2 linked regions of the Homo sapiens genome follow. The main gene of each other region encodes a partner of the protein of the gene in region 2 in a complex. Each region holds a gene or a part of one and is shown on either strand. Other genes may lie near its edges. The genes, in order: PPIH and SART1.

Region 1 (3,809 bases), on a different chromosome or scaffold from region 2:
CCAGACTAAGAAAGGAGGTGGTAAAGGTGAGTCCTGGGCCAAGCAAGAGAAGGAAAGCATTTGCTTCCATCCCAAGAGACAGCACTGGGCCTCAAGAGGGGCCCAGGAACCAGCTGGCTATAACCCAAAACCTTGATTGGACCTCACTTACCATGGAAAGCAGGCCTGGAGCTGAGTGTCTAAGTTTAAAATTTTCATCTGCAAATGGCCCCCGGTAAATACTGGCGACTCCAGTACCATCTCCCTGAGCAGAGAGAAGGGAAGTATTAGTGACTTGGAGTGTTGGGTCCCTGGAAACCGGAGGAAGAACACTGTCGCACCTAAAGCATGACATCTTTAAAGTCTACTCTTACTCTTGTTGGTCATCTTGGAAGCTGCACCTATTTGACCCCACCCTGCAATCAGATCAAGCCTTATATAAGGTACCTACAGCCCACAAAGACTGGCTGGAGCATTTTATAGACTGGATAAAAGAGGTCACAGCTGGGCCTCTAGAACGATCAATTAAGATGCAGACAAAGTAGGGAACAGCAACAAGGTGATCACATACTCAATCCTTGCCATTCCTGAAGACTCTCATGCCTTCAGTCACATAAAAGTACCCACTTAAGTGACTACCACCCCATTCCCCTAAACTATCTAAGAGGGTGGGTGAGCTCTTGGCAGTCTGTATGTACAACATGATACCACCCTCCTGGTCATAGTTGATTGATCTAGGGAAGGATGCCTAACTCACTCTGGGCCAACTAGAGTTCCTTCTCTGGGAATCTGGAGGTGGGATAGATGCTCTCTTTGAGGCTAAATTTGTAACATGTAAACCTGAAAGCTGGATGTGACTACCATTTGCAAGCTGGGCTAGAGAACAGAGAGAGAACACAACACAGATGTGTAGCGAGCACTAGAGAAACGGAGATAAAGAACTGCCTTGGTTCTCTATGGTTCTAGTTCCTAGTTCTATTTCTTCCTTTAGTTCCATGAAACACTCCCTTTATTATAAACTCCCAATTTCTGCTTAAACTAGCTTTATTTGCATTATCTCCTTGCTCTTCCAGCAACCTTGAGGAATAAGCATTATCATCTTCCCCATTTTTCATGTGAGGAAACTGAAGTCTGGGTAATAAAACAATTTGACCAAGGCCATATTTGCAGTGCCTTAAATAGAATCCCTGAGTTTTAAAGGCAATATTGAGGAGTGCCAAAAAGATCAAGCTCTCCTCGCCAGTTAGTAAAGAGAAAGAGTACATGGGAGAAAGGGAAAACACTGACCCAGTGAGGAATCAAGGGTCCCTTTTTGGAAAAGAACTACCATTAATATAAGCCAGAGAATAAAGAAAAACTGTCCAAATTCAAACCTTTGTTTGCCTAAATATTATAAAATAAAATCAAGTCTGTATATTAGAAAGACCTGGCCTGGTGTGGTGGCTCACACCTGTAATCCCATCACTTTGGGAGGCTGAGGCGGGTGGATCACCTGAAGTCAGGAGTTTGAGACCAGCCTGGCCAACATGGTGAGACCCCATCTCTACTAAAAATACAAAAATTAGCCACGTGTGGTGGTGGTACCTGTAATCCCAGCTACTCGGGAGGCTGAGGCACGAGAATCGCTTGAACCCACCCGGGAGGTGGAGGTTGCAGTAAGCCAAGATCGCACCACTGCACCCCAGCCTGGGCGACAGAGCGAGACTCCATCTAAAAAAAAAAAAGATCTGAATTTGAGTTCCAGATCTATCACTTAGAGCTGGGAAAGTCACTTCCAATCTGTGAGCCTCAATTTCCTCATCTATCAAGTGAGGATGAAATTACCTACTCTTTACAGTTATCATGAAGATTCAATTAGATAGTGTCTGTAAAAAGCACTGTACAAACAATATAGTACTATATAAATAATCAAATAAGCTAATATGTCATTAACTAACTACACATACATATTAATACAGAAGGAAGAGAGAAAACAAGTTCATCTCCAATTTCCCAGTGAACCTAAGGGACACATCAGTTACCGTGCCATTCTCCGTAATCACGTTATCTATAGCTCTCCAGAAACAATAGGGAAAATTACAAAATTAATAATTTGGAGCAAACAATAGAAAGCAACTTATCTTCAACTATAGTGAATTGATCAAATAACTTGTCTATTCATAATGAAATATTAGGTGGCTATTAGAAAGCATGTTTTAGAAGACATAACGACAAGGGAAAATATGGACAATTATGAAGTACAAAAAAAGTAAAACATATAGATTATTTTAAGTCTGTTAAAAATTATATAAACACACATATACATACTAAGGTAAGACTGACAACTGTAAACCAAAATGCCAATAGTATATTGTGAGGTGAGAATGAGGGTAATTCATTTGGTGATTTATTTTCTTCTTTGCACTTTTCTTTTGCAACCAAAATAATAAATACTATTAAAACCAAAAATAAATGAACAAACAAATATTCTTGGTCAAACTTTGGAAGGTCTCAAATTCTGATTTTTCTGACTCTTGCTCATTCCATTTTGCCTTCCCCAAGGAAGGTTCTAAGCAAGCTTTTTTTTTTTCCCTTTAGACAAGGTCTTGCTCTGTCGCCCAGGCTGGAGTGCAGTGGTATGAACATGGCTCACTGCAGCCTTGAATTGACCTCCTGGGCTCAAGGGATCCTCCTACCTCAGCCTACCAAGTACCTGGGACTACAGGCGCACACCACCAAAAATAAAAAAATAAAAAATAACTTTTCTTATTTTTGTAGAGACAGGGTCTTACTATGTTGCCAAGCTGTTCTCAAACTCCTGGGATCAAGCAATCCTCCCAGCATCCCAAGGTACTGGGATTACAGATGTGAGCCCTACCAGCAATTGCTTTTAACTCGGCCTTCAGACTGAGCAACTATTGTCTAACCCCAGAGTTATCGACAAGTGATCAGATGTGCCTGGGGCAAAGACTAGTAAAAAGCTATTCCTCTCCTTGTAAGGCAACAGGGAAGCCTAGGGGAAAAAAAAGGAAAGAAGGCAGAGGATAGCTTCTCAGCCCTTCTTACCAGCTAACAAACCCTACTACCATTATCTGTTTCCCGGGGCTGCAAACAAATGCCCACAGGAGCAGGCAACGTAAATAAGGGAAACAGTTGTGGAGACTGGTGAAATGGCAAAGATATGCCATGTCCAAAGGGACCAGTTCCTTGATTCCAACCAATTGTCACTGTCACTGCCACTGTGAGAAATGCAGGCCCAGCATACTTCCACTTTCCATTTTTTAAAGAGAAAAAAAAACTAGGATTTTTTTGTGCCATTTCACAGTTATACAACACCATGCAGATGAATCAAAACATAGGTAAAAACGTAATTCGGCCTAAAACCTGCCACTCTGCAACCCTGTATTGCATAGGAAAGGAAAGAGGTCTTAAAAACTCATGAGATTCAGACTAAATAAACACATAAAAGAGAACACATGTCTCCCAGATCCAAGAAAACAGCAACACAACTAACCAAATGATATTAATAAGAGTAAAGAAAGACCATTCAGAAGTGGGGGGTAAGGACAAAAGCAGGTTTAAGAAAGAAAAAATGTAGTTTATCCCACACCCTCCAAGGTTGGGGTGGGGAGGGAGGCTTCATATGGGGGACAAAAACAGTCTACTTACAAGAAAGCTATGGTTAGCAAAAAAGAACTATTTCACTGGGCTCTCTCAGTGAATAGAGCAAAATTCCTCCAGAACTATCTACCTCTCTTGCTCTGATTCCTTGCCCACAAATCAACTTCTTATGAAAAACTCAGCTTTCCAGGCACTGTGACACCCAGAAGTAAAAGAGAAAATGAAACAAG
Region 2 (3,809 bases):
AACAAACAAATGTTCCTGGATGTCCTGGAAGACTTTTTTTTTTTTTTTTTTTGGAGACAGGGTATTGCTCTGTTGCCCAGGCTTGAGTGCAGTGGCAAGATCACGGCTCACCATAGCCTCGGCCTCCAGGCTCAAGCAATCCACCCACCCCAGCCTCCCAAGTAGCTGAGACTACAGGCATACACCACCATGCCTGGTTGATCTTTGTGTTTTTTGTAGAGACTGTGCTTCACCTTATTGTCCAGGCTGGTCTCGAACTCCTGGGCTCAAGTGATCCTCCAGCCTCGGCCTCCCAAAGTGCTAGGATTATAGATGTGAGCAACCACCCGGCCCCTGGAAGAATTTTTTTTTTTTTTTTTTTTCGAGACGGGGTTTCACTCTTGCCCACTCTTTTGAGTGCAGTGGTGTGATCTTGGCAGCCTTGATCTCCCAAGCTCAAGCAGTACTCCCACCTCAGCCTCCCCAGTAGCTGGGACTATGGGCGTGTGTGACCACAATGTCTAATTTTTATGTTTTTTGTAGAGATGGGATTTGGGTATGTTGCCCAGGCTGGTCTCGATCTCCGGAACTCAAGCAGTCCACCCGCCTCAGAAGATTTTTTTAAAAAAATGAATGTAATATAAAATGAAAGAGGGGTGCAGAAGTGGACATAGTGACTCGAACCTTCACTGAGGAGTGAGGACTTTGCTGTCTGGGCTGCAGGGTTGAGGGAGAAGTTTTTTAAAGAGGGGAGATGGTAATCATTGTGTGTGGCTGGGCATCTGCGACAGGAGGGAAAGCAGAGGGTGCTGGTGCCCGTGTGGGGGTCGCTGGATTCAGTGCTGGCAGCATGAGTGAGTTCTCTTCCCATGTCACGGAACCTGCTTTCTTGGTGAAGCAGGAAGCGAGAAGCTGGGCTGTGGGAAGTCAAAAGCGTGGGCCACCTCACCACCCTGCGGGTTCTAGAAGTGCTGTCTAGAGTCCTGAAACCGGAGTTTGTCGGGGGAGGGGCAGGTGGCAGGAGGGAGCCTGGAGGAAGGAGTTTGAGGCTGAGGTAGTGTGTGAGGGGCTTTGGAGGGGGATTGGCACAGGCCTGGTCAGGAAGGCCCTGTAGGATGTTGGGTATTCATTCAAAGGGCATCCAAACCCATTGATGGGTTTGGAGCAGAAGAGTGACCCCAGTGAAAGAGGTGCAGAGTGGAGTTAGGCGGCAGATAGCAGCTGGGCCTGCATGGGCTGTGGGCGTGGCCTGTCTGGCTGCTGCCAGGGAGGACCCTTAGGTTCCTGGGTCTCAATGGCATCACCCCAGAAACTGCTGGGTTTGCCCACAGCCGCTCCCTCCCCCAGGTGGTGGAGATTGTGAAGAAGCTGGAGTCTCGCCAGCGGGGCTGGGAGGAGGATGAGGATCCCGAGCGGAAGGGGGCCATCGTGTTCAACGCCACGTCCGAGTTCTGCCGCACCTTGGGGGAGATCCCCACCTACGGGCTGGCTGGCAATCGCGAGGAGCAGGAGGAGCTCATGGTGCGTCTGGGGCGGCCCCGCCCTCTGCTTCCCTCGGCTGGGTGGGCTGGCTGGGGCCTGGGCCGACCCTGGTCTTTTGTGCCCCAGGACTTTGAACGGGATGAGGAGCGCTCAGCCAACGGTGGCTCCGAATCTGACGGGGAGGAGAACATCGGCTGGAGCACGGTGAACCTGGACGAGGAGAAGCAGCAGCAGGATGTGAGGGCCGCGCCGCTGGGGGGTGGGCGTTTGGGGGTGCTCAAGCTGGAGATGAGCACCGGGCTCGGTGTCCAGAGCCTCAGCCTCCTCATCCAGAGTGGGCTCTGCAGACCTCCCAGGGCGATCTGAGGAGTAAATGAGGAAATTAAATGTTGTGGAGGGCTGGTGCCTGGCAGGTGGTGACCAGTGGGTGGGGCTGAGAAGAGCCGGTATGGCCTGCTAACCACCCCCGCCACGTGTCCCGTAGTTCTCTGCTTCCTCCACCACCATCCTGGACGAGGAACCGATCGTGAATAGGGGGCTGGCAGCTGCCCTGCTCCTGTGTCAGAACAAAGGTAGGGAGCTCAGGGCAGCCATGACTTGGGTGGGCTTGGGTGCTGCTGCAGGTGCAGGCAGGGCCCCCTCCGGTCCCCTCTGCTGCCCCTTTCTCTCAGTCCCAATGCTGGAGCCAGCTGTCCGGCCCAGAGCCACTCCTTCCCCTCCACTGTGGCATCTGTCCGTCTGCTCTGCCTTTGAGGCTCCACACCTGCTTGGGGAAGGAGAGGGGAGTTGAAACTGTTCCAGCTGTGGCACAGAGAGCCCTGGTGTTAGGACCCCAGCTCTGCCATTTCCCTGGCCAGTGACCCTTGGCAAGGGGCTCATTTCTGCATCTTTGCTTTGCCTGTAGAACAGGCCTGATGGCTTTCCAGAGGCAAGGAAAGGGAGGTGCCCCCACAGGGCCTGCTCTGCCTTCTCAGGCGGCCCTGGAGCTGTGGCTCTCGAGGGGTTGGGAGTCTCACAACCCCTCCATCCCTAGGGCTGCTGGAGACCACAGTGCAGAAGGTGGCCCGGGTGAAGGCCCCCAACAAGTCGCTGCCCTCAGCCGTGTACTGCATCGAGGATAAGATGTGAGTGTGGTGGGGCCTGTGCAGGGCTGAGGGGCCTGTGCCAGCTTGGAGCTTCGGGACCACAGCAGGCGGCAGCTCCTCACACTAAGGCCTCCTCTGTCTCGGGCCAGGGCCATCGATGACAAGTACAGCCGGAGGGAGGAATACCGAGGCTTCACACAGGACTTCAAGGAGAAGGACGGCTACAAACCCGACGTTAAGATCGAATACGTGGATGAGACGGGCCGGAAACTCACACCCAAGGAGGTGAGCAGGGCCTTTTGCAGGCGGAGGCCCGGCCTGCCACAGGGAGGCCAAGCCCAGGGCCATGCAATGCCCCGGGCCATGCAATGCCCCAGGGTCCTGGCTCCACCAGCCTCTGGCTGGGGGCCTGGTGAATGCCACGGATGGGGAGGGGGCCCTCAGGGCTGAGGAAGGCTGTGCCTCAGTTTGTCTCTAGTGGGCACAGCAGTCTCTTTGCAAGCCTGGCAGGAGGGTCAGACAGGCACTCGGGACCTCTGCCCTCCTGTCCTCACCTGCGTGAGCCCTTCACTGGCTTTCCTGGCCCGCAGGGCCATTCCAGCGTCCAGGCCCTTCCAGCACTCTCGTAGGCCGCCCGACCGTCCTGCCCTACCACTCAGCTGCCCCCTTGCTCTCTGGGGTTTGTCTCCCTGCAGCCCCAGCCCCAGCCCCAGCGTCCAGGCCCAGCCCCTGCGTGGCAGGTCTCCAGGTTCCCCATGCTCTGCCCCCATGGCAGCGCATCCACTAGCCAAGCTGGTCTCCCGGCCTCTGCTGGGGCCCTGCAGGGTGCCAGCGTCTGTGCTCTTTTCCCATCCCCTTCCCACTGCACCCCAGGCCTGGCATTGGGGTCAATCAACACCCGCCCTGTTATTATACACCTTGTGGGCACAGGTGGCTCCGGCCCCACCCAGGGCCCTGCATCTCCTCTCATGCCCCGCGTCCCCAGGCTTTCCGGCAGCTGTCGCACCGCTTCCATGGCAAGGGCTCAGGCAAGATGAAGACAGAGCGGCGGATGAAGAAGCTGGACGAGGAGGCGGTGGGTGCCCTTGGGGATGTGGGGGGCCCTGTGCCTGCCGGGGCAGGGGTGGCTGGTGTGTGGGGCCTGCTGCAGCCCTTTCTGAGTGGCCCCGACCCCTCAGCTCCTGAAGAAGATGAGCTCCAGCGACACGCCCCTGGGCACCGTGGCCCTGCTCCAGGAGAAGCAGAAGGCTCAGAAGACCCCCT

The links.
Region 1: SART1 (region 2) and PPIH share a complex: the UniProt entries of both Homo sapiens proteins name them as parts of the U4/U6-U5 tri-snRNP complex.

The regions. Positions count from the first base shown.
Region 1 is NC_000001.11:42,661,298-42,665,106, reverse strand, and holds part of PPIH (peptidyl-prolyl cis-trans isomerase H), read right to left. Parts: intron 245-3,809; coding exon 152-244; intron 1-151. UniProt on the Homo sapiens protein: PPIase that catalyzes the cis-trans isomerization of proline imidic peptide bonds in oligopeptides and may therefore assist protein folding. Participates in pre-mRNA splicing.
Region 2 is NC_000011.10:65,975,069-65,978,877, forward strand, and holds part of SART1 (U4/U6.U5 tri-snRNP-associated protein 1), read left to right. Parts: intron 1-1,310; coding exon of another isoform or gene 1,311-1,326; coding exon 1,327-1,500; intron 1,501-1,587; coding exon 1,588-1,698; intron 1,699-1,945; coding exon 1,946-2,033; intron 2,034-2,494; coding exon 2,495-2,585; intron 2,586-2,695; coding exon 2,696-2,831; intron 2,832-3,531; coding exon 3,532-3,621; intron 3,622-3,724; coding exon 3,725-3,809. UniProt on the Homo sapiens protein: Plays a role in mRNA splicing as a component of the U4/U6-U5 tri-snRNP, one of the building blocks of the spliceosome. May also bind to DNA.